Linked DNA regions of Homo sapiens. The protein of the gene in region 3 purifies or fractionates together with the protein of the main gene of each other region. This does not show direct contact. Each region holds a gene or a part of one and is shown on either strand. Other genes may lie near its edges. The genes, in order: DGUOK, NPLOC4 and MTPN.

The links.
Region 1: the proteins of MTPN (region 3) and DGUOK purify together in Homo sapiens (affinity purification with mass spectrometry; 2 studies listed by BioGRID and IntAct, with this or other methods). This does not show direct contact.
Region 2: the proteins of MTPN (region 3) and NPLOC4 fractionate together in Homo sapiens (co-fractionation; 2 studies listed by BioGRID). This does not show direct contact.

What each region holds. Positions count from the first base shown.
Region 1 is NC_000002.12:73,943,774-73,950,879, reverse strand, and holds part of DGUOK (deoxyguanosine kinase, mitochondrial isoform a precursor), read right to left. Parts: intron 4,162-7,106; coding exon 3,974-4,161; intron 296-3,973; coding exon 148-295; intron 1-147.
Region 2 is NC_000017.11:81,606,078-81,613,183, forward strand, and holds part of NPLOC4 (nuclear protein localization protein 4 homolog), read right to left. Parts: intron 4,182-7,106; coding exon 4,133-4,181; intron 2,746-4,132; coding exon 2,651-2,745; intron 738-2,650; coding exon 614-737; intron 1-613. UniProt on the Homo sapiens protein: The ternary complex containing UFD1, VCP and NPLOC4 binds ubiquitinated proteins and is necessary for the export of misfolded proteins from the ER to the cytoplasm, where they are degraded by the proteasome.
Region 3 is NC_000007.14:135,974,328-135,982,322, forward strand, and holds the start of MTPN (myotrophin), read right to left. Parts: upstream 3,033-7,995; 5' UTR 2,774-3,032; coding exon 2,702-2,773; intron 1-2,701. UniProt on the Homo sapiens protein: Promotes dimerization of NF-kappa-B subunits and regulates NF-kappa-B transcription factor activity. Plays a role in the regulation of the growth of actin filaments.

The DNA.
Region 1 (7,106 bases), on a different chromosome or scaffold from region 3:
GGGACAGGAGGGTGTCCCCCACTGCTCTCTGTGCTGCAGGTAATGTCTACGCTCTAATCTCTCCAACCAGAAAATCAGGGGCTTGGAGAATGTCACTTCTTAGGTTTCATATGGCCCTAAAGTCTAAGGTTGTAGGTTCAGTGTTACCTGGGGAGAAGCCTGGAGGTAGATGAAGCCATGTAATGTGATCCGGCTGGCAAACTCCCACAGGAGAAAAGAATGCCAGTCCTGATAGATATGCCACTCGATGTCACTGAGGGAACCATTTTCAAAAAGATTCTTTGCAAAGATATACCTGGTTGGAAGTGGGATGGGAATGGGGAGGGCAGGAGAATGGGAAATGGAATGAAAGGCACGAGAGAGAGAGAGAAGCAGAAAAATCAATAACCAACTTGTTCCATGTCTGTTCAAACCACTTAACCTTTCTAGCTCCTCATCAATCCTTAAGAAATCTGAATTCTTAACCCATATCTCCCTCCCTGCTCAGTACTAAGATGGGAAATAGGATCTAGACTTTGGAGGCTGAAATCACACCTTTCCAGATGGATTGATTCACTGGAAGAAAAGAGACAGAAGATAGTATCATTGGTCCCTAACAATTTTCTCTGCTAGAAACCAGTCAGAACATACAGCAAATATATGTAAACTTGAACTTTTGAGATTTCCTTATTATTATTATAGCAAGGCCCAAAACAAATAAACAAGTGAATCCAGTATAAATCCACCCACTAAATTTCATACAAGGACTGAGGGCTTCTAAGTCTCCAGGCTACTGAGCCATCCTTTTGTTTAGCTGAGACATGCAGAAGAAATAGTATTTATGTGGTGTCCTCTATGGAGCAGAAAATGCATTTCCTACTAATTTCAGTATTACTAAGAAAGCAGACTCTCCTGCAAAATGCATTATGAGCTCCTGCTTGCTTGCTTCCTCTGCTGCTGAGTTTCTAGTTCAGATAAAAGAAAGCTAAAGCTAAAAATCAAACCAGCTTTGCCCCCTGCTTATTTCTACAACCAAAAGAGCATCTGGTAAACAGGAAATCAGAGCTAAACATAAACCATGGCTTCAGACAAACCAGGGGTCAATCCTGCTTTCAAACCTCAGGCATTTTAATAAAAAACACAATTTGCATCCTAAGCAAGGGACTCCAGTTTCCAAGGCAATGCTCAGCAACTGGCCACTTTGGAGAAAATAAAATTCAGAACCCTTGTGTATGATGGCTCAGGAAAGTACAGACTGCAAGGCTGTGAGTGTCACCACTGAGAGAATACCTTCCAGAATAACATTTCAGGGTCTGATACTGGCTGAAACATTCACTAGCTATGTAACTTCAGGCAAGTCACCTAAATCCTCTCAGCCTGTTATGATGATGTCTTGTAATAATCCTCACAAAGTGCTTAGAAGAGTGACTGGCACATAGTCTTCTAGATATCTTAGTTATTATTATAACTGCTTTTTGTTAGGCTATGAAGAAGCTAACTTAGAAACTCCACAAGTAAACTTTCCCAGTCTGGAATGGTTTAGCCATAGTCTAGTTGATGAGAACAAATAAAAGGGTAACATTTTAAACTCAAAATGTTTTTGAGTTCTTTACAGATAACTAGAAGATGAAATTAAGATCCTATAAAGTGGCCACGCACTGTGGCTCACACCTGTAATCCCAGCACTTTTGGAGGCTGAGGCGGACGGATCACCTGAGGCCAGGAGTTTGAGACCAGCCTGGCCAACATGGTGAAACCCCGTTTCTACTAAAAACACAAAAATTAGCCAGGCATGATGGCGTGTCCCTGTAATCCCAGCTACTCAGGAGACTGAGGCACAAGAATTGCTTGAACCCAGGAGGCGGAGGTTGCAGTGAGCCAAGATTACACCACTGCACTCCAGCCTGGGCGACAGAGCGAGACTCTGTCTTAAAACAAAAAAGGATCTTATAAAGAGAAATTAAAGATTTGCTAATAAGCCCTATGAAAGGGGTTCTTGGCTTTCTTGAGAAAGAGCACTTCCTTTATTTCTTCAAAGCTTGTGGTGGTGATGGGGTGAGGGGCAGAAGGGTGTGGTGCTGAGTGGGAGGGAAGTACTGCAGACTGAATGCAGGGGCTGCAGGACAGAACAGGGCATAAGGATCTAGGAGTCAGGGCCTCTGCTCTAAAACCATATGCTAATGTTTCCTTTAACTCAAACAGAAAAGACTAAGATTTCTTCCTCGCTATAATCAACTCTCCCAGATAACCTGTGTTCCTCCTTTGGAACAAATATCACACACGTGAGCATGTGTTCAGTCCCTGTTAGGCAGGGACTGGGTCTGCCTTATTCACTGCTGCAGCCCCAGGGCCAGCCTTGGTGCTTCAACACAGGAGGCATCCAATAAATCTGTGCAAGTGAACAAAGTCTAAATTACCCTCGGGATTAGAACTTGTGATTAGTTTTCCTTTCTGTCTCGAAAATGCCCTCACTGAAGATAGCACCTGGAATGTTGTATGCCCACAGTGTAATCAATTATTACCTCTTCCTTTACAAGCAAAGGTTAAGATCCATGCAGCTTCTTAATGCATTTCTAATTAACAAAGTGTTTCTACTTCTCTATTTTCCTCTGAGGGTCTCACACACCTACTTCATGAAGCGGCTAGAAATAAAGACTGACTATGTTTCCAAACAACCCATGTGGTTATATGTAATTCAACTTCGGAGTCCGAGAGGCATGGCTTGGGAGAGAAGAGAGGAAAACAGGCAGGTGGGATATCCAACAGCTGAAAAAGAAGTAAAACCTATAGCCCAGCCATTTGTAATTCACATATTTAGCTTTTATAAAAAGTAGGCTCTCTCGGGGTACGTACACAAGGAACGGATAGCCTATAGGGTTTGTTTTACATATCTTCCATGATTTTAGGGTAAAGTCAGAAAAATCACTTGTCATTTACAAATGTATCCTTATTTTTTTTCTTCTAGGAGGCTTTCCGGAAGCACTAAGAAATAGAACTAGTTTGTCTAATTTGGAATTAAAAGAGTAACCAACTGAGTGTCTTCAGCAGTGACAATGAAAATGTACCACTTCCCATTTTGATAATTCAAAGAGCCTTAAGAAAGATCGTTTTGCTTGAAAGCACTATTTCACACTGACACTGGTCATTCATAGGCTTCAGATAAGAAAAACTCCAGCAGTGTCCAGATCAAGCCATCCTGACTTTGTCTCTAGGCGGCTTAACCTCAAGTCACAGCCTGGTCTCTGCAGCAGAGCCAGGCATTCCGGAGCCTGCACGGCCTAGCTCTTCTGGAGCAGATGGGCTCACTTCCCAGGGTGCTGCTAGCTTGCATTCAAAGTGACTTCACATCTCACTCCCTCAGGTGGTCAGGATGATGCCCATCCCTGATCTGACACAGGCACTGATGTCCACTAGACTCTGGCCAGCAAAAAGCCCTCTCACAGAAGAAGGGGTCAAAAAGGGCTAAATCTGAGACAGAAGCCAGTTTCTCAGATGTGCTATTTCTGCCTAAGCATCCTTTCTTGAACAATAAAAAAAAAAGGCTGAAAATATCTCTTATATCATTTTCAGGAACACAAATTTTAATTTCGTCTGCTTTTTTCTTAAAGGGGATAATCAACCACTGAATCATCTGATTTCTTAGAATATACACTGCTACTTAAGTGTCTATTATGTGCCTTTTAGCATGTGATGGTTACATTAGGTGGCTACCAGCTTGCTCCATGCCAGAAAATAAGGAAACATAAGGTAATCAGTAGCAATGTAAGAAATTCAAAGCATTCAGTTGATGAAAAACCCAATTTCCTTTCTTGACATAGATGACAATCTGGTAGAAGTACAACTCTGGACAAATCTGTATAGTGTTGTCTTTAAAAAAGAAGATAATTTTTCAAATTATAATCATCAGTGACCATAGCAGTGCAGGATCTGTGCAAGATCAAACAGGCAGCACTGAGCATGGGGCTTGTGACTGGTGGAGGGCTTGGCATTTTACCTGTCACTGTACACAGACCTCTCAAAGATCTGTACTGGCTTCCTGGCCTGTAAGAGTTTCTCAGGGAAGGGCTCCAGCTGTACTTTCAGGCGGCTCAAAAAGGAAAATGTCTGGAATGTGTAGGACCATCGTGCTGGCTCCCGGTACATCATATCCAGCAAGTTTCCAAGACTTTGGGCAGTGCAGGCCTAGAGGGAGATGAAAAAAAGAAGAAAATTTCCTAGAAAGCATATTTACTCCATGGGGTACACCCCTCCACACACACCCCTACCTCCCCAAACAGGTTTAATAATCAATGAAAGAAGAAATTACAAAAGTTTCCTTCCACCAAAAAGGTAGAATCAGATCCCCAGCTTAGTCAAAATTTCATAATCAGGTATGAGATTTTCCTACCTATTAAATAAGACTCTCTAAAGGGAGATGACATGCCACTTCAATATAACAAAAGCAGAGGAAGAACCATATATAGAATTAACACGATCACTGATTGAGGGATTTGTGAAGTCTGTCTGGGGAGGAGTTAACAGTCAACAACCATCTAAAATTTAACTCTGAATCAAATCTTTCCACTATAACACTATGTTGCCTCTCTTTTGAGCTTCCATCTGTAGTTATGTTTATAAAATGTCAAGGCAAACCAGAAAGCAACTGCTTATTTGAAAATCCAACCAATCAACCACCAAATAGAATTTTATCTTTCATATAAGGAGTACAATTTGTTTGTTAAAACAAAACCCTACTTAATTCTAGAGACTTTATGAAACATAATTAAAACGTTCCACTTACTCGGCATGTGCAAGTGGGCACAAGTGTGGGATGTTCAGCAGCCCCGGATTTTTTTTTTTTTTTTTTGAGACAGAGTCTCACTCTGCCACCCAGGCTGGAGTGCAGTGGCACGATCTCAGCTCACTGCAACCTCCCGGCTCACTGCAACCTCCGCCCTCCTCCCCACCCCAGCCGAGTTCAAGTGATTCTCCTGCCTCAGCCTCCTGAGTGGCTGGGATCACAGGCACCCGCCACCACGACAAGCTAATTTTTGTATTTTTAGTAGAGACAGGGTTTCACCATGTTGGCCAGGCTGGTCTCGAACTCCTGTCCTCCCAAAGTGCTGGAATTACAGGCGTGAGCCACCACGCCCAGCCCCAGATTCTTTTCTGGATCTGCCATTGACTCAACAATGCAAAAGTGAATTTTGTACAAAAGCACTTTGGATCTGTATTTTTTATTCAATCACCAATCACTGAAGGCCTGTGTGGATGAGGCGCTACATGGGCAGGGTACCGTAAGGGTATAGAAAAAGGAATTAACATTTATTTCAACCTTTACTGTGGTATGTTACCTCAATTAATCTTCAAAACAGCTTCATGAGGTAGGTACTGTTGTAATGCCCATTTTCCAGAGGGGAAAATCCACTCAGAGGTTAAGTAACTTACTTGTGCAAGGTTTCATGGCGAGTAAATGTTGAAGGGACTCAAACCTGGCTTCCTCTAACCTCATCATTCCAACACCCTCCATCTAAAGGTGAACAAGACAGTTCCTGAACTCAAAGAGCTCACAGTGCAAAAAGGAAGAGGGTGATGAGGATGTACGAAGCTGGAATGTAAGGCAGAACATGTGATGAAGGGACGATTACTGATGGTGGAAGGAATCTCAGGGAGTTTCTGAAAGAAAGTGGCATTAAGCTGGGAAGTAACTGATGAGTAGAATTCTCACAGATGGAAATGGAGATTAAGAAGATTGTACTTCAGGTAGAGACAACAGGACAGAAGGAGAAAAAAGATTCAACAACAGTAAGAAGTCCAATTTGGCAAAATAGCACTATTAGATTCCAAAGAAGGGTCTTAGCCCTTTGAAAGGCTTCAGCAGAAACAACACATATAGAGCAGAGTGGACCAGAAAAGCATTTAACTCAGAGGTATTTTCGGGATTTCCCTCCTTCTGACCCCGCAAGCCCACACATACCAGCCTCACACGTGGCCCCTGACTAAGAGCTGGAGGTAGAAGTAGGAGGACAAATTTGTGTCTCCTGTAGTCTCTGTGGTGTCACTAGAGATGGTTGGGAGCAGCCCTGGGCCTGTTGCACAATTCACACACTGTATGTGGAGCGGAGTGCTGTGCTGGCAGATGCAATAGGTTGACTGGTGGGTTCTATTGCACCAGTGGGCTTTGGGCTATCAAAGAGAGACTCTTCTGGAACCAAAAATGTAAAAGAAACCAACACAATTTCTGAAAGAACCCATCTCAGCTACAGAACAAATGCAAACATCCTTCCAAAAATATAAGCAAACAGATGAACAATAATTGGACACAAAAATACTTAGCAATTCAAAAGGAGAGGACTAGTCTCTGTGCTCAGACAGGGCTGTTGTCAGAAACAGGAGAAAACAAAAGATACGGCCTTGCTGATAAAACAAGAATAAGCTATCATAAAAAAGGAACAATAAGAAAATAACTTTCTTAGAGGTGAAAAATGCAATTGCCCAAGTAAAACACCCAATGAAGATAATGAAGATGGTAGCTAGCAGACTGTATAATGCAGTAAACCTAATTAGTGAATTAGAAGATCCTTACAGAGTATCAGTTTAAGGGCTAGGTATGGGGGCTCACACCTATAACCCAAGCACTTTGGGAGGCCAAGGCAGGAGGATTGCTTGAGGCCAAGAGTTCAAGACTAACTTGGGCAACATAGTGAGACTCTGTCTCCACAAAAAAATTTAAAAGTTACCTGGGCATAGTGGTGCATGCCTGTAGTCCCAGCTACTCTGGTGGCTGAGGTGGGAGGATTTGCTTGAACCCAGGAGTTCAGTGCTACAGTGAGCTATACACTTGATCTTAGCCAAAAGGCTGAGAAGCAATGCTGCAGTGAGCTATAATAGGGCCACTGCATTCCAGCCTGGGTGACAGAGTGAGACTCTTTAAAGAAAAAGAAAAGAGTATCAGCTTAAGAAATTCTCCCTAGGGGCTGGACATGGTGGCTCATGCCTGTAATCCCGGCACTTTGGGAGGCCAAAGTGGGTGAATCGCCTGAGGTTAGGAATTCGAGACCAGTCTGGCCAACATGGTGAAAGCCTGTCTCTACTAAAAATACAAAATTAGCCGGGCATGGTGGTATGCCTGTAATCCCAACTACTTG
Region 2 (7,106 bases), on a different chromosome or scaffold from region 3:
TCCCAAAGTGCTGGGATTACAGGTGTGAGCCACCTTGCCCGGCCAAAATAAAGTAGTTTTCAAGAAGAAAAAAGGAATAGAGAATAGGAGGTTTCCAAAAAAGTCGAGGAGGCCACGGAATTCTCTCTAAGGAGCCGTTTTCTCTAAGGGCACAGCGGCAGGAGGAAGGCGAGGCAGGCTACTCAGAGGCGGGACAAGGACAGCAGAACATCCAGAAAGGCCGGAACGCTCCCTCCTTCCTGAGCCACATTCTCTCCTTAAGCCAGCCTGGACAGGTGCTCAGAGCTGGTCCAAGGGGTGCCCCTTTACCAACCTTCAGAGCCAGTTTCCTCACAACCACTGAGGATTTTAAATAATCATCAGGAACATTCTGCCTCCATATGAGCCAGCAAAACAGAGAACTGAGGGCGCGCACTCCATATCTCCAAGAGCAAGAAGCCTTAAAAATGATATATTCAGTGTACCACTTCCACAAAAGGATCATTCAGTCCATCAAAAAGTACTGAAAATCCACCACGCATAGTGCTAATAGCATTCCACTCCAAGGGGCTCTTCTGGAAATATCCGTTTCTCAGCCATGAAAACAAATCTAGACAGACAGGGAACATCTCACCTGTCTGTTCAGCGTGATGGCGCTCGGCTGGCACTTAGTACAGATGCCATTCGGCCACGGGAGGTGCCCCTCGCACCCTGACTTAATCTTGCAGCTGATGTTCTCCAGGGCAACAAACTTCCCCCTACATAGAAGAGAAGCAACTTAAACATCACATTGGTGAAAAGTTGAGCAAGAGGCTGGAAATGACATGCTAAGTATCTTATACCTCCTGAACAGTGTCTCAGGAGCTAAGCACGTGGCAGCAGCAGGGAAGATGGGCTAAGGATGATTCTAATGGAAGCTCTACCTACAGTTCCAGCACATTCCGAATCCCAGCTTCTGTCCCACATACTTCAACCATACAGGAACACACAACTACTTTCCTACCAAACTGTGGTGTTTTTTACCATCTATCACTAACATCCGAGAAAGCTTTCAAGAATACTGTAGAATATCTACTGATCTCACCTGTGCCACTGAGCGGGCATGAGGCTCCTACAGGTTTCATTAAATTGTCAGAAACTTTGACATTAGCCCAGTACTTAGATATTTGTAAAAAATTCTTATTCATGGGAAAAATCTGATTAGGATATATAATTAAGGCATCTTTACTCTGCTTTAGGCTAAAATAAAAACTACTGTTGAAGACTGTCAATGAGAAAATCCTGGACCCTACTCTGAACTTTTTCTTTTTCTCCAGCTTTATTGAAATATAACTGACAAAAAAAAAAAAAAAAGAAATCTGTATCTTTAAGGTAGACGTGAGGTTTTGTTTTTCAAATAAAAACGATATATTTACAGTGTACGAAATGATATTCTGAAACATGTCCACACTGTGGAACGGCTAAATTGAGCTAATTAACATATGCATTACCTCACATACTGATCATTTTTGGTGGTGAGCCATTTTTGGTATCATAGCATCTAGGAAGCAAAGACTCGTCACTGAATCTGCATGCTAACAGCAGCCACAAACACGCCCCCACTAGAGACTGTGTTCCTTGACCTAGACTGAGAAAGGCTGACCAAGTCTCTTTCACTACAATCAATCTGCACCCACTCCTTAGTCCAGAGAGTTCCACAGCTTTCCCCACTGACAAGCAACAGTGGGTTTCTAGCAGGTTTTTTCTTCTGGTCTAACATTTTTAAAAAGTCATTTTAGGATGTCAGCAGGTTGTCAGAGAAAAGCTACAATCAGGCGAATATGACATCCTTCACAAAATGTTGCTGACTTCAGTTCAGCCACCATCTCCTCGTTGCACTGACAGGAATTATAAAATAATAGCTGAAGCCTGCTACTTTCTGGTAGGGTGTACAGAGAGCCAACAGGAGAAGGTCATACAGGCAAGGGCTTGCCATGGCTTAAAAGAAATCAAAATGCTCAGTTCACCCCTTTCTGGCCACTGTTACCACCTCTGCCCACCTGGCTGAGCCTGTGGGCAACTACTGTGGTACCATGAGGATTAGTGGCTGCAGCCCCTGCTGTGGCTGAAAACCAAGCTGACTCAGAGGCCAGGCTCTGGGGAAAGGGTTACCAGGCACTGAGGTGGGGAAGCTGAGATTCTCACAGGGTAGTTGTTTTTCTGAAAAGCAGAGAATGAACTCAGACCACAGAATCAACAGGCCACCATCACAGATGCTAACTTGCTGGGGTGGTGTGTGTGGGGACAGCCTCTGTCTGATACTGCACTGTGGCCACGCAGCCAGGCGCCTGCACAGTCGCTCTGCCTTGCTAGCTCCCTTCTAGAACCAGGTTGGCCAGGCGAGGTGGCTCACACCTGTAATCCAGCACTTTGGGGAAACCAAGGCAGGAGGATCACTTGAGCCAAGGAGTTCTAGACCAGCCTGGGCAACATAGTGAGACCCCATCTCTTAAAAACATATATGAGTACATAAAAAATAAATAAATAAATATAGAACCACGGTAACTTTCAAAGGCGTGTGACCCCTTCTCATCTTTACTTCTCTCATTCACACGTTCACTGGCTATAAGCAACAACTGCCAGCTACACAAAAAGGAATTTACGCACAACCAGGTTACAGCAAGTTGCTTACTTGTCAGCCCCTCCAGTCAGCTTCCGGATGTAGGCGTGGAAGGACATGTGCTTCACGGGAGGCTCGAGATGGTTTAGATAGTCCTCATCGAATGGCTGCCAAGACACAGAGTAAGCGAGTGCAGTCTCACACGTGCCGGTCACTCCAGGCGCTGAGCCTCTGCTACGCACAGGGGGAGGCCAGCAGCATGGCCTTGGCAAGTCAAGGCCCACAGTGAAAGCAGGTACTAGGGTCTCCCTTACCACTCTGAGTCAGAACCAAGTTTTTCTTTTTTTAATTAATTGTTTTTTGTTTGTTTGTTTTGAGACGGAGTCTCACTCTGTCGCCCAGGCTGGAGTGCAGTGGCACAGTGGCACAGTCTCTGCTCACTACAACCTCCACCTCTGGGTTCAAGCAACTCTTCTGCCTCTGCCTCCCAAGTAGCTAGGACTACAGGTGCACGCCACCACGCCCAGCTTATTTTTGTATTTTTAGTGGAGACGGGGTTTCAGCATATTGGCCAGGCTGGTCTCAAACTCCTGACCTCATGATCCACCCGCCTTGGCCTCCCAAAGTGTTAGCTTTACAGGCGTGAGCCACTGAGTCTGGCCAATTTAACTGTTTTAGAGATGGGGTCTCATGCTGTTGCCCAGGTTGGAGTATGGTGGTGCAATCATGGCTCACTGCAGCCTCGACCTCAAGTGATTCTCTTGCCTCAGCTTCCTGAGTAGCTGGGACTACAGGCGTGAACCACCACACCCAGCTAATTTTTTAAATTTTTTGTAGAGACAGGGTATACAAAAAAAGAGTTGCCCAGGCTGAACAATTCCTAGGCTCAAATGATCCTCTGGCCCTGGCCTCCCAAAGTGTCGGGACTACAGGCGTCACTGCACATAGCCAGAAGCAAGTTTTTCTTTGTGTGCCAGTTATCTTTTCAAGATTAAAATGAATCTCTATTAAACACAAAACGCTCTAAGTCAAATGAGTTTCAGGAAAATTGTGCAAAAAGAAATGCCACAAGATGAGGCAAGAGATGCCTCATGAAGAAAATCGGGCTGGCCTTCCTGCTGTAAACCCAGCATTAACAGTTCCAGTCGGCATTATTACGGTAACTCTCAGTCTCACCAGGACAAACCAGTAGAAGAGATGTGAGATTCAAGGCAAAGTAAATCAACAATGATAAGCACGGAGGCCGACAGGCTCAGCTTTGTGTCAGATCGGAAAAGGATTGTCCAGGGAGCCCGCTGTAAATGCTGCCCCTTTATCACAGCCACACAAATGCTTCAGCCATTCATAATCCAGCGAGAAGGTCACTCCCATAAATAAAGGCTCGTCCTGTGTGCAGCTTGCACTAGGGGAATATGAGGCCCAGGGCAATAAATAGGTAAGTTCTTTGAACCACTCACTACAGCCAAGTGCGTGGACTCAGGGCAAGCACTTAAGACAGCTGTCTACCCGCAGCCCCCCACACTGGCCCAGAACTTACTCCGCAGAGACTCTCACCTCTAGAGGGACGCAGTGCACGCATTTCCCCAAAGGGCCGTGGCGGCATCTGAGGAGAGTACAAGGCAGAAAAAGGCAGAGCAGTGAGGATGTCTGTGTTCCGCTGCTGCTGTCTCACATGCACGTCCTACTTTAACAGAGTGTTTCCCTGCCCACGTGGAGTTATATTCCAGATGGCACATGGATAAACATTTATATTTTAATTGTTGTTTTGTTTTGTTTAAAGACAGGCTCTCACTCTATCGCCCAGGCTGGAGTGCAGTGGTGATCGTGGCTCCCTGCAGCCTTCACCTCCTGGGCTCAAGCACTCCCACCTCAGCCTCCCCGAGTATCTGGGACTCCAGGTGTACACCACCACACCCAGAAGTTTACTACTTATGTTGATATGAATTAGAAAAAACTGACCCGCACATCAAACCTGTGACTTCATGGGTATCCACTGCTTAAAATGACACAAACCAGGCCGGGCGCGGTGGCTCACGCCTGTAATCCCAGCACTTTGGGAGGCCGAGGCGGGTGGATCATGAGGTCAGGAGATCGAGACCATCCTGGCTAACAAGGTGAAACCCCGTCTCTACTAAAAATACAAAAAATTAGCCGGGCGCGGTGGCGGGCGCCTGTAGTCCCAGCTACTCGGGAGGCTGAGGCAGGAGAATGGCGTGAACCCGGGAAGCGGAGCTTGCAGTGAGCCGAGATTGCGCCACTGCAGTCCGCAGTCCGGCCTGGGCGACAGAGCGAGACTCCGTCTCAAAAAAAAAAAAAAAAAAAAAAATGACACAAACCAAAGATAAAAGTGAATGAACTCAAAGTCAATGTAAGTAGTTTATTGGCCAAAGGCAGTGGCTCACACCTCTAATCCCAACACTTTGGGAGGCTGAGATGGGTGGATCACCTGAGGTCAGGAGTTAAAGACAAGCCTGGCCAACATGGTGAAACCCCATCTCTACTAAAAATACAAAAATTAGCCGGACGTGGTGGCAAGCACCTGTAATGCCAGGAACCAGGGAGGCTGAGGCAGGAGAATTGCTTGAACCTGGGAGGCAAAGGTTGCGATGAGCTGAGATTGTGCCACTGCACTCCAGCCTGGGAGACGAGAGTGAAATTCCACTCAAATAAATAAATAAATAAAATAGTTTTTTTTTTGTTTTCTTTTTTTCTGAGACGGAGTTTCACTCTGTCACCCAGGCTGGAGTGCAGAGGTATGATCTCGGCTCCATGCAACCTCCGCCTCCTCGTTTCAAGCGATTCTCCTGTCTCAGCCTCCCAAGTAGCTGGGACTACAGGTGCACACCACCATGCCTGGCTAATTTTTGTATTTTTAGTAGAGACGGGATTTCACCATATTGGTCAGGCTGGTCTCAAACTCCTGACCTCAGGTGATCCACCTGCCTCAGCCTCCCAAAGTGCTGGGATTACAGGTGTGAGCAACTGCGCCTGGCCAAGTCCATTTAAAGAAAAGTGTTAAATAGGCCAGGTGTGGTGGCTTGCGCCCTGTAATCCCAGCACTTTGGGAGGCCGAGGCGGGTGGATCACAAGTCAGGAGATAGAGACCATCCTGGCAAACACGGTGAAACCCCGTCTTTACTAAAAATACAAAAAAATTAGCCAGGCGTGGTGGCGGGCGCCTGTAGTCCCAGCTACTTGGGAGGCTGAGGCAGGAGAATGGCGTGAACCGGGGGGACGCAGCTGGCAGTGAGCGGACGTCGCGCCACTGCACTCCAGCCTGGGTGACAGAGCGAGAGTCCATCTCAAAAAAAAAAAAAAAAAGAAAAGTGTTAAATAAATAATAACAAAGCTGGTACGTGAACATGGCAAAGGGCCTGAGAGCGGTGCATAAATAATCCAAGTTTGGAAAATACCTACTTCATATGCATTTTGGGAAATAACAACAATGAAAAAACCTTGTCCCACGGCTTTCTAACATTTTCAGTCACAGAAGCCTTGGGAGCACAACACGCACAATCTGAAGGAGAGGTATGCTGGTTTACGAGGGCGCCGGCGGCCGTCCCTCCGGGGCTCAGTCAGACCCCTTTCTAAGTGGGGTCAGAATTCTTACATGCGTATGAGCCCTGTGCTGCGGAACAGAGGTGGCCTCTGTGCTTCCTAATAGGCAGGATCTAAGTGATGATGGCTCAGAATTCTCTCACACACACACGCTCTCAAAAGCTGCTAATGAAGCCATGAAGACACAGATCATGCAAGCAAGCCAGTGCCAGGCCCCTGGGAGGAGACACAAATGGAAGAGGCATGCCGGCTAATGGCTATGGCTACAAAGTGGCTCCATGCCAATGGCAGGAGAGCACCATTTATGGCTCTCTGATCTAAGACATAAAAGTTGCTAATGCAGCATTTGGAATCCCAATACCGCAAAGTCAGCACCCCGTCACATCTACAGAGTGATGCATTTTAAAAAAGACCCCACTGCAGAGACAACCTTCGCTCAGACAATTTCACATGGCCAAGTATAAACTCAGATCCTTCTCACTGGTTTATTTAAAAGGAATTGCAAAAAATCTAAAATAAACAATGTACATATGCATAAGCACTTCATATAGCCCCAGGTGAGGAGGGAATATTCCAAGGCACAGCATCTTCTGCAAGTGAAATGCTTGCTGCAGGGATGGAGAGCGCACACTAGTGTGGCAGGTCAAAATCATCCAACCGCTATGAAATGAGAGACACAGCACTCACCTCACATGGATGCGCACACACAACCACCTGCCCCTTCCCTCCTCCCTCCCCTGCAGCTGCTGATTAACACCCCACTCTGCACGGGAATCAGCATCTCCAGGGGACATCACAGTAAAGACTTGGTGTGAGGCCCCCAACTCCCCCAATACCTTTCCAGTCTCTTTGTACCCAAATGCTTCAAAATTTTTTATGGGAACATATTTTGAGGTGGAAACTGATAAAAAGCTAAAAAAAAAAAACAAAAACCGATAAAAAGCTAACAAGATAACTTGAAGTTTAATCT
Region 3 (7,995 bases):
GAGGCTAGGAGTTTGAGACCAGCCTGTACAACAAAGTGAGATCCAGTCTCTACAAAAAATAAAATTTGCTGGGTGTCGTGGTGTACATCTATGGTCCCAGCTGCTCAGGAGGCTGAAGTTACAGTGAGCTATGATCACGACACTGCACTCTAGCCTGGGCGACAAAGCAAAGACCCTGTCTCCGAAAAACAAAAACAAAAAAACCCTGTTTCCAAAAAAAAGAGGAGGAGGAGGGGAATACTAAAATGCTTATCTTACTCTTACAGGTAGATTCTTAGGTTAACAATATGAGAGATCTTCACAGGAATGTTGAGGAGAGTTTTTAAAATAGACTCTCACCCCTGAGAATGAAGACTAGACAGGTCTAAGTGTTTCTTTAGTATTTTCTTTGTACACACCTACTCAGATAGATGCACATTACAGAAACTCAAAAAGTGAGTGTTCACAAATTGGTAGATGAAAAATGTGAGTCAATAAATAAGCAGGGAAGACAGCTGTGGGGCAGAAGAAACTGTAATAAGGACCTGAAAGTATAAATGGGCACCGTAAGGGAGCTGAGTCAGTATAAACTTCAGTTCTTGTTATTATTTCTCATTAACAAAGTGAAAGATACTTTATGAAATCTTCAAAACTAAGAAAGGATAAAGCTCAATGCTCTGTACATCAGATTACATTACAGTTACAGTCATATCTTTTTGGATAGTCCAACTTTCAATACTCCCTTTTGCTTTTTCTGAATGTCTACCCTCCCTCTTATGCAAATTTTTTACATTAATGAAGAACAGGCTACGGTAGTAATATAGGGAAAATAATCAAATTGAACATGATAACCTAACCTAATTATAAAACTAATTGGAAATAAATTAATCCATCTTTATTGGCATATATTTTCATATAAATATTTTTGTGTAGTTGAGAATTCTTTGGGCACAATTTACCTGCCTGAATGTGGACCCTGGGAATGTCCTACTAGAAATCTTGGTATGATACGCTTTCACAATTAGATCTTAGACTGAGAGATAGTGCGTGGAGCAGTTAAAGAGTTTCAGTTTTGGAGTCAGCAATTTAGTTCTTGCTTCACAATTTACCATCTCCATAACTTTTCTTAAGTATCCTGCATCTCAGTAATCTGTAAAATGGGACCAATAATAGGACTTACTTCCCAGTATTCACAAGGATGACATAAAATAATGTGTCAGGAAAACACTAAATACATTGTGTTATTTTGGTAGCTGTAAGTTCAGTTAGTACTTAATCAACTTTTTGTATTTCAAGTATATCAAACAACCTAGGTTCCACCATGACAGGAAAACAAAAGCCCACTTACTTCCAGAGTATTGCAGTGTCCCACCACTGGTAAGTGTACCAAATAATTTCTACCTTTTAGCTTTATATTGAAATAGCCAATAAGTCAAGTTTCAGTTGGCTACCAGCTGAGAAGGCAGTGACGAGAAGACAGCCTGTCCTAAAACTCCACTGCAAAAAACTAAGCAGGTAAGCAGCATCCAAAAAGTCTAAATTGTAATGGCATTAAATAAAGTAAAAACCTTCAGCAGTTTGCCTTGCACAATCCTGTAAGTTTTAAGAAACTGCTTCGCTTACTTGCTTCCTAACACAGCCTCTGAAGCAAAAACCCAGGTCAGGTCCTATTCTTTGAAGAGTTAAAATCTAGACTGGGTTCTCACACTTTTAGAAGGTGAGCAAGATGCCATCCGTGGTTGTCATAAAATTATACTTGTTTTGGAAGATTCATTTTAGATTATCACTAAATTAAAATCACATGTTAAGTTCTCTCATAATTACAAAGGCACAGTTTCAGGATGGAAAGACAGGCTAGCTTGGAATTTTAAGTTTCCCACTCTGCCACAATGTCGATTCAGTTTTATATTTGGGGCTGAGGTTTGAGTTTGTCTTTCTTCATCATGATTTTACCCCCCAAATACACTGCCACTAAACTGCATTGCTATTTACTACACATGTAAGCATTTCAGGTGAAATCAGGGAGAAGAATGGAATAACTGAAGTTAACATGCTTGTTTAAAAACTATTCAGATACCTTAAACATTCCCAGATGCCAGTTGACAACCTTACCACTTGAAGCAAATATGTATTTGTTGTGGTGGGGGAAAGGAAAAAGGCCACACCCAAAGTTAAGACACCACAGTGAAGTGATACTCAGTTTCAGAATTTTAACTATTTCTATTTTCGGTACTCTTTTCACGGTCAATGAATTCTTCAACTTCACACCAGGCCGAGAGTTAAAAAACATGTTCCTCTGATCCTAATTACTTAGGTTACTTCATTTAGTAATGGGTAAGTCCAAGATGGAGAATTACCTCATTCAAAGAAAGGTTTAAGTAACTTTGGTGTAGAAGAGGGCCAAACTCAAATGATCAGTGCGCAGAAGAAACTCTGGATGAGCCAGACACCACTCCTCCCCTCCCCCAAGAGGCCAGGAAGTCAGGTAGCGCCTAACTGTATTAACGCAGCAGTTACCTGACACAGAACGCTACCAAGTTACCTGGACCCTTCTTTCAGTTTAGCTCCTCCCTAGACGCCCCTCTCTCCTTGGTGCCGCCTCCACCCAGGAAGTCTCTCCTCCCGCCCACCCCCATCCCCGCAGTCCAGCTCCCATCAGCTTCCTCAGCCTCATCTCCAGCCCACCTCCGTGTTCTCGCCTACTCTTCTCATCCCCGCTTACCTTGGCCACATAGTCTTTCACCTCATCCAAGTCTCCGTTTTTCAGGGCCCACATGAACTCCTTGTCGCACATCACTGCAGCGGGGCAGGCCGGTTGGCCGGGCAGAAGATGAGGAGGCGGTGGCAGCAGCAAGCGGATGCCGCCGGGCGAGAGGGAGGCAGGGCCGCGCGAAGCCGGAGAGGAGAAGAAGAGAAGGAGGGTTAGGCTGCCAGGCGGGCGAGGCAGTTGGCCGCGGCGACCGTTCGGGCGGGAGAAAGAAAGTTCTTTTGCGGCCACCGGGCCCAGCAGAGAGGTTCCGCCTGGCCGAGGAGAGGCAGGAACCTTTACACTTCCGGTTCACTCCCCGCTAGGACCCTCCCCCAACTTCCTCTTCCTCTTCTCCTCCGCGGAACGCCTCTCTCTGGGTCCGCGGCGCGAACGCCACTAGTGCGCATGCGCAATGTACAGGCTGCCGGGAAGGCTAGAGTGGAGGGTAGGAGCCGGCGACAAGTGGGCGGGACTGGGAGGCAGAATGAAGGAGGCCCGGGGGAGGTCAAGACAGCGAATGGAGGAAGAGTGAGAGTACTTTCGATGGGATTAGGACGCTTCTGCACCACCATTAATGGGAAAAACTTTACTTTTTAAAAAACATAATCTTGGAGGGCATCTTGCTCAGCTTCTAAAAATGTATAGGAAGAGTGTTTAATTTGAATTCCTTCTTCCTTGCCTTTTCCCCTTCCCTCCCTCCTTTTCACCCCTCCCTCTCTCCGTCATCCAGTCTGACTGGGCTAAAAACGATGGAATAACGCTATTCCTGCCCTCCAGGAAATCTTCAACACTAAAACTACAATGTAAATTGAGTGTGTTAACACTATGTATAATGTTCCCTGGAGCAAAAAACTTAAGTGTGTGGCAGGAAAAAAAAAATTAACTCATCTTCCTGACCAGCAAATGACGTCCAGGCATTCAGTTTGATGCCGTAAAGTGGAGCAAACCAAACTGTCTAGTACAATTTGCGTTTTTTAAATTTACTGTTTGTTTTTAATGGTTTGAAACTTCAGGACTGTTCTGGTGAAGTCAGTTCTGTTCTTCCTAGGGTTTAGTTGTAATGCCATAGTGCATAGCTACCACTTGAATTGTTCCTCACAACCCTAATGATCCAGGCATGCGCACATGAACATAGATCCAATAAAAGCTCTTATTGGAGCTAGAAATATACGTATAATATATATACATATATAACTATTACTATATATAAAACTCATATATATAATCTATTATTTGTAACCCACTAAACACATTAACTAAGCTACTTTACCACCATTGCCGTACAGTGTAGGGGTTCCAAACAGACTCTGGAGCCAAATTGTTTAGTTTGCGATACAGGTCCCACTTCTTGCTAATTTTGTGTCTTCTTGGGCAAGTTACTGAACCCCCTTCTGCTTCAGTTTTCCACTTGTGTAAAATGGGGATGTCAATAGTGTTTGGAAATGTATTTTTTTTTTTTTTGCTATCATTTAGAGTAGAATAGCAAATGGGTTTCAAATCAGAAGAAATCCCTCCAAATATTAACATCTACCTAGATTGTCATTTGTTAATTTTACTCCCTGATAATTAGAAATACAAATCCACATACCCAATAGTGATACGATTTCTGGAAACAAATCTCAAGGGGGAATTTGTTAGGCAAGTCCTAGAATCTCCATCTCTTCTCCAACACACTCCCACCTGTGTGATTTCTGAGTTACATCATGCTGAGAGCTCTTGATTTATATCTTTGGCCGGGTGCAGTGGCTCATGCCTGTAATCCTAGCACCTTGGGAGGACAAGGCTGGAAGATCGCTTGAAGCCAGGAGTTGGAGACCAGCCAGGGCAACAAAATGAGACACCATCTCTACAAAACACAAAGATTAAAAAAATTAGTTGGGTACAGTGGCGGACTTCTGCCTTCCCAGCTACTTGGGAAGCTGAGGCAGGAGGATTACTTGAGCCCTGGAGTTTGAGGCCACAGTAAGCTATGATGGCACCACTGCATTCCAGCCTGGGTGACAGAGCAAGATCATCTAAAAAAAAAATCTTTAACTAGACTTTTCCTATGTGATCTATTCTTATATTTAACTTCTTACTCATTTGGATTTCTCAAACTTAACATGTCCAGAATAGGATCTGGTCTCCTGTAGATGTTAAACCTAGTTGTCCCCCACATATCTCTGTAAATGGCGCTGCCAACCACCCTATCACTAAAACCAGAAACATGGGAGTCATAATCACTCTTCCCATTCTCAACTTTTCTCTTATTCAATCCATCAGTAAATATTTCAAAATATGTCTTAAATTTGTTCATTTCTTGCCATCTTCACTATTACTACTCCCTGCACCCTCACATATCCCCCATCCCTGTCACTGTCATCTCTGTCTACACTGCTATGATGCTATGTGCTATGATAGCCTCCCTGTTGGTGTCCTATTTTCACTCATCCTTTTCTAGATAATTCCCCACTTTGGGAGTTACTCTTTTAAAACTTAAACATGCACTTGTTGTCCTAAGGCCTTTCAAAGGCTTCCTATTGCAGGTAGGTTAAAATCCTAACTACTTGATATGGCCTTCAGGGCCTTCTGTGCACTGACTGCTGATGGTAGGTGATAGTATCTCCTATCTCATGACAGTCCCTTGCCACCCCCATTGTTTCTTTGATTTTGAAATATCTTGTCTTCTGTCAGTTTCAAGCTAAACCAAGCTCATTCCACCCTAAGGCCTTTATGCTTCTTGTTTCTTCTCTGGAATGTTCTTCATCTAAGTCTTGTTCACTCCATCTGACTTTTGAGGTTTCAATGCAAACCTTCAGAGAGACCTCCCAGACCACCCACTTTAAATAGGTCCTTCAATTACTTACAGGGCCCAGCTTTTCCCCCATTTACAGCACATGTCACAAGTATTTTAATTATCTTTTTTGTTTACCTATTTTGGTAAGTATTCATGGTGTTAAACAAATAATTCCTTTGTCTGCCATTCTGGGCACAAGAGAGAACTGCTCTTCCTGGCTTGTAGTTGAATAATATCATGTAACTAATTTTGGCCTATTAGTTATGAGCAGACGTGAAATGAGTCACTTCCAGGCTTGTCATTGTAAGACCCTTCAGAACTCTTTCCTTCTACTACAGCAACTAGCAACATGCAAGATAGTGGCTACACAGTCAGTCTGGGTTCCTGTGTAACTACAATGAGCAGAGCTCCCTCACTGTCCTATAATGGATATATAGGATGAATATGAATTTAACTTGTATTGTTTTCAGCCATTGAAATTGTGGTGTTTATTACTAGAGGAACACTGAACCAATCTTGACTAACACAGAAATTAGTGTCAGAATGGGAATGTTACTAGAACAAAACCTTTAAATAAATGGCATTGGCTCAGTGGCTGGGGAGTATACAACAAAGGAAGTGATAGGAGAAGCCGTAAAGATGGTGATTCATACTCACAGGAGTGAAACCTTTGGCAAAACTGTAATAATATGGGGAAGGTCTAGTAGTTCTAGAGGAAAAGGCCAGAAAATGGAAAGCTGGTGGCATGTATCAGTAACTATTGACTATATAAAATACTGTTACTGGTGGAGGGTGTCCAGGTTCTTGGCACTGTGAACAAAGAATTGGACAAAATGCACAAAGCAAGGAAAGAATGAAGCAACAAAAGCAGAGATTTATTGAAAATGAAAGCACACTCTGTAGCGTGGGAACAGGCTGGAGAAAGTGGCTCAAGGACCTGGTTACAGAATTTTCTGGGGTTTAAATACACTCTAGAGGTTTCCTGTTGGTTACTTGGTGTACACCCTATGTAAATGAAGTAGTGGCCCGCAATCAGTCTGATTGGTTGCAGGAGGGGAACAATCAGAGACTGAAGCAAAGTTACAGTTACACCCTATGCAAACGACTAATTGGTTGCAGAAAGTGATGAATCAGAGGCTGAAGTGAAGTTACAAAGTTATACTCCTATGCAAAGGAAGACTTGGCCTGTGACCAGCCTGATTGACTGCAGGAGGGGACCAGTCAGAGGTACTTACAATTTTTTATCTGACACTCAGAAAAGATGGGGGTTGCAAAGGGAGTAGCCTTGAGTCCATTTGTTACTTAGGCATGGGAAGTTGGGGTTTTCCTTTTGATTTAGTTTTAGGAAGTCAGTGTGAATCAGCCTTAGATGATTAAAAAAGATTTAATTAATCTCCGTGCCTCCAGACCCTATTCTCCTGTCTCAATACTACAGGAAATGATGAGTTTAGAAAATAATTGTCCAGCTTGCAGTTAGGAAAGAAAGTGATTATAGGAAGCTATAAACTTGGAGACATGCACGTTTAGAAGATGCAAGTGATTCTCATTATTATTCATTAAAAACAAAACTGAGATGAGCAACAAAGGTTGATTAGAACTCAACCTCTTGGCAAGGATCAAATTACGGGTGTGATAGTCACACCCATGACTAAAACCTCCGAATAGATTAAAGTGGTACCCCATGAATCTTTTCAGTTGAACAACATGGCACAGGTCTTCCCATGACAGAGCTGGATAGATTCAAGGTACCTACAAGAAAGAATTAAAAGAGAAAGTTGTGACTTAGTGCAGTGGAGACACACACAATCATGGTATGTGGAGCTAGCTTGAATCAAATATGGAAGAAGCTGGCTAAATTTTTGAGAGACATGCCAAAATAGCTATCAGTCAAGACTAAAGGAAACTGTAAATAGACTCCAAGTGGGAGTGGGGCTTCAACCTTCTGTGGACAGAGTTGTCTGAGAACGCTGCTCAGACTTTAAGGAGATCACATTTTCCAGTGCTCACTTAAGGACAAGGAGGCCGGGTATAGTGGCTCATGCCTGTAATCCCAGCACTTTGGGAGGTCGAGGCGGGTGAATCACGAGGTCAGGAGTTTGAGACCAGCCTGGCCAACATAGTGAAACCCCATCTCTACTAAAAATACAAAAAATTAGCCGGGCATGGTGGCAGGTGCCTGTAAAATCTCAGCTACTCTGGAGGCTGAGGCAAGAGAATCGCTTGAACTTGGGAGGCGGAAGTTGCAGTGAGCCGAGATCACGCTGCTGCACTCCAGCCCAGGTGACAGTGCAAGACTCTGTCTTCAAAAAAAAAAAAAGAAATAGATAAGGACAGGGATAATGTGGTGCAAACCCAAAAGTATCTGAGACAGGTCCTCAATCAATTTAGGAGTTTATTTTTCCAAGATTAAGGACATACCTGGAACAAATGAACATGGAATCGCAGAAACAGTCTGTGATCTGTGCCTTTCTTCAAAGATGATTTTGAGAGT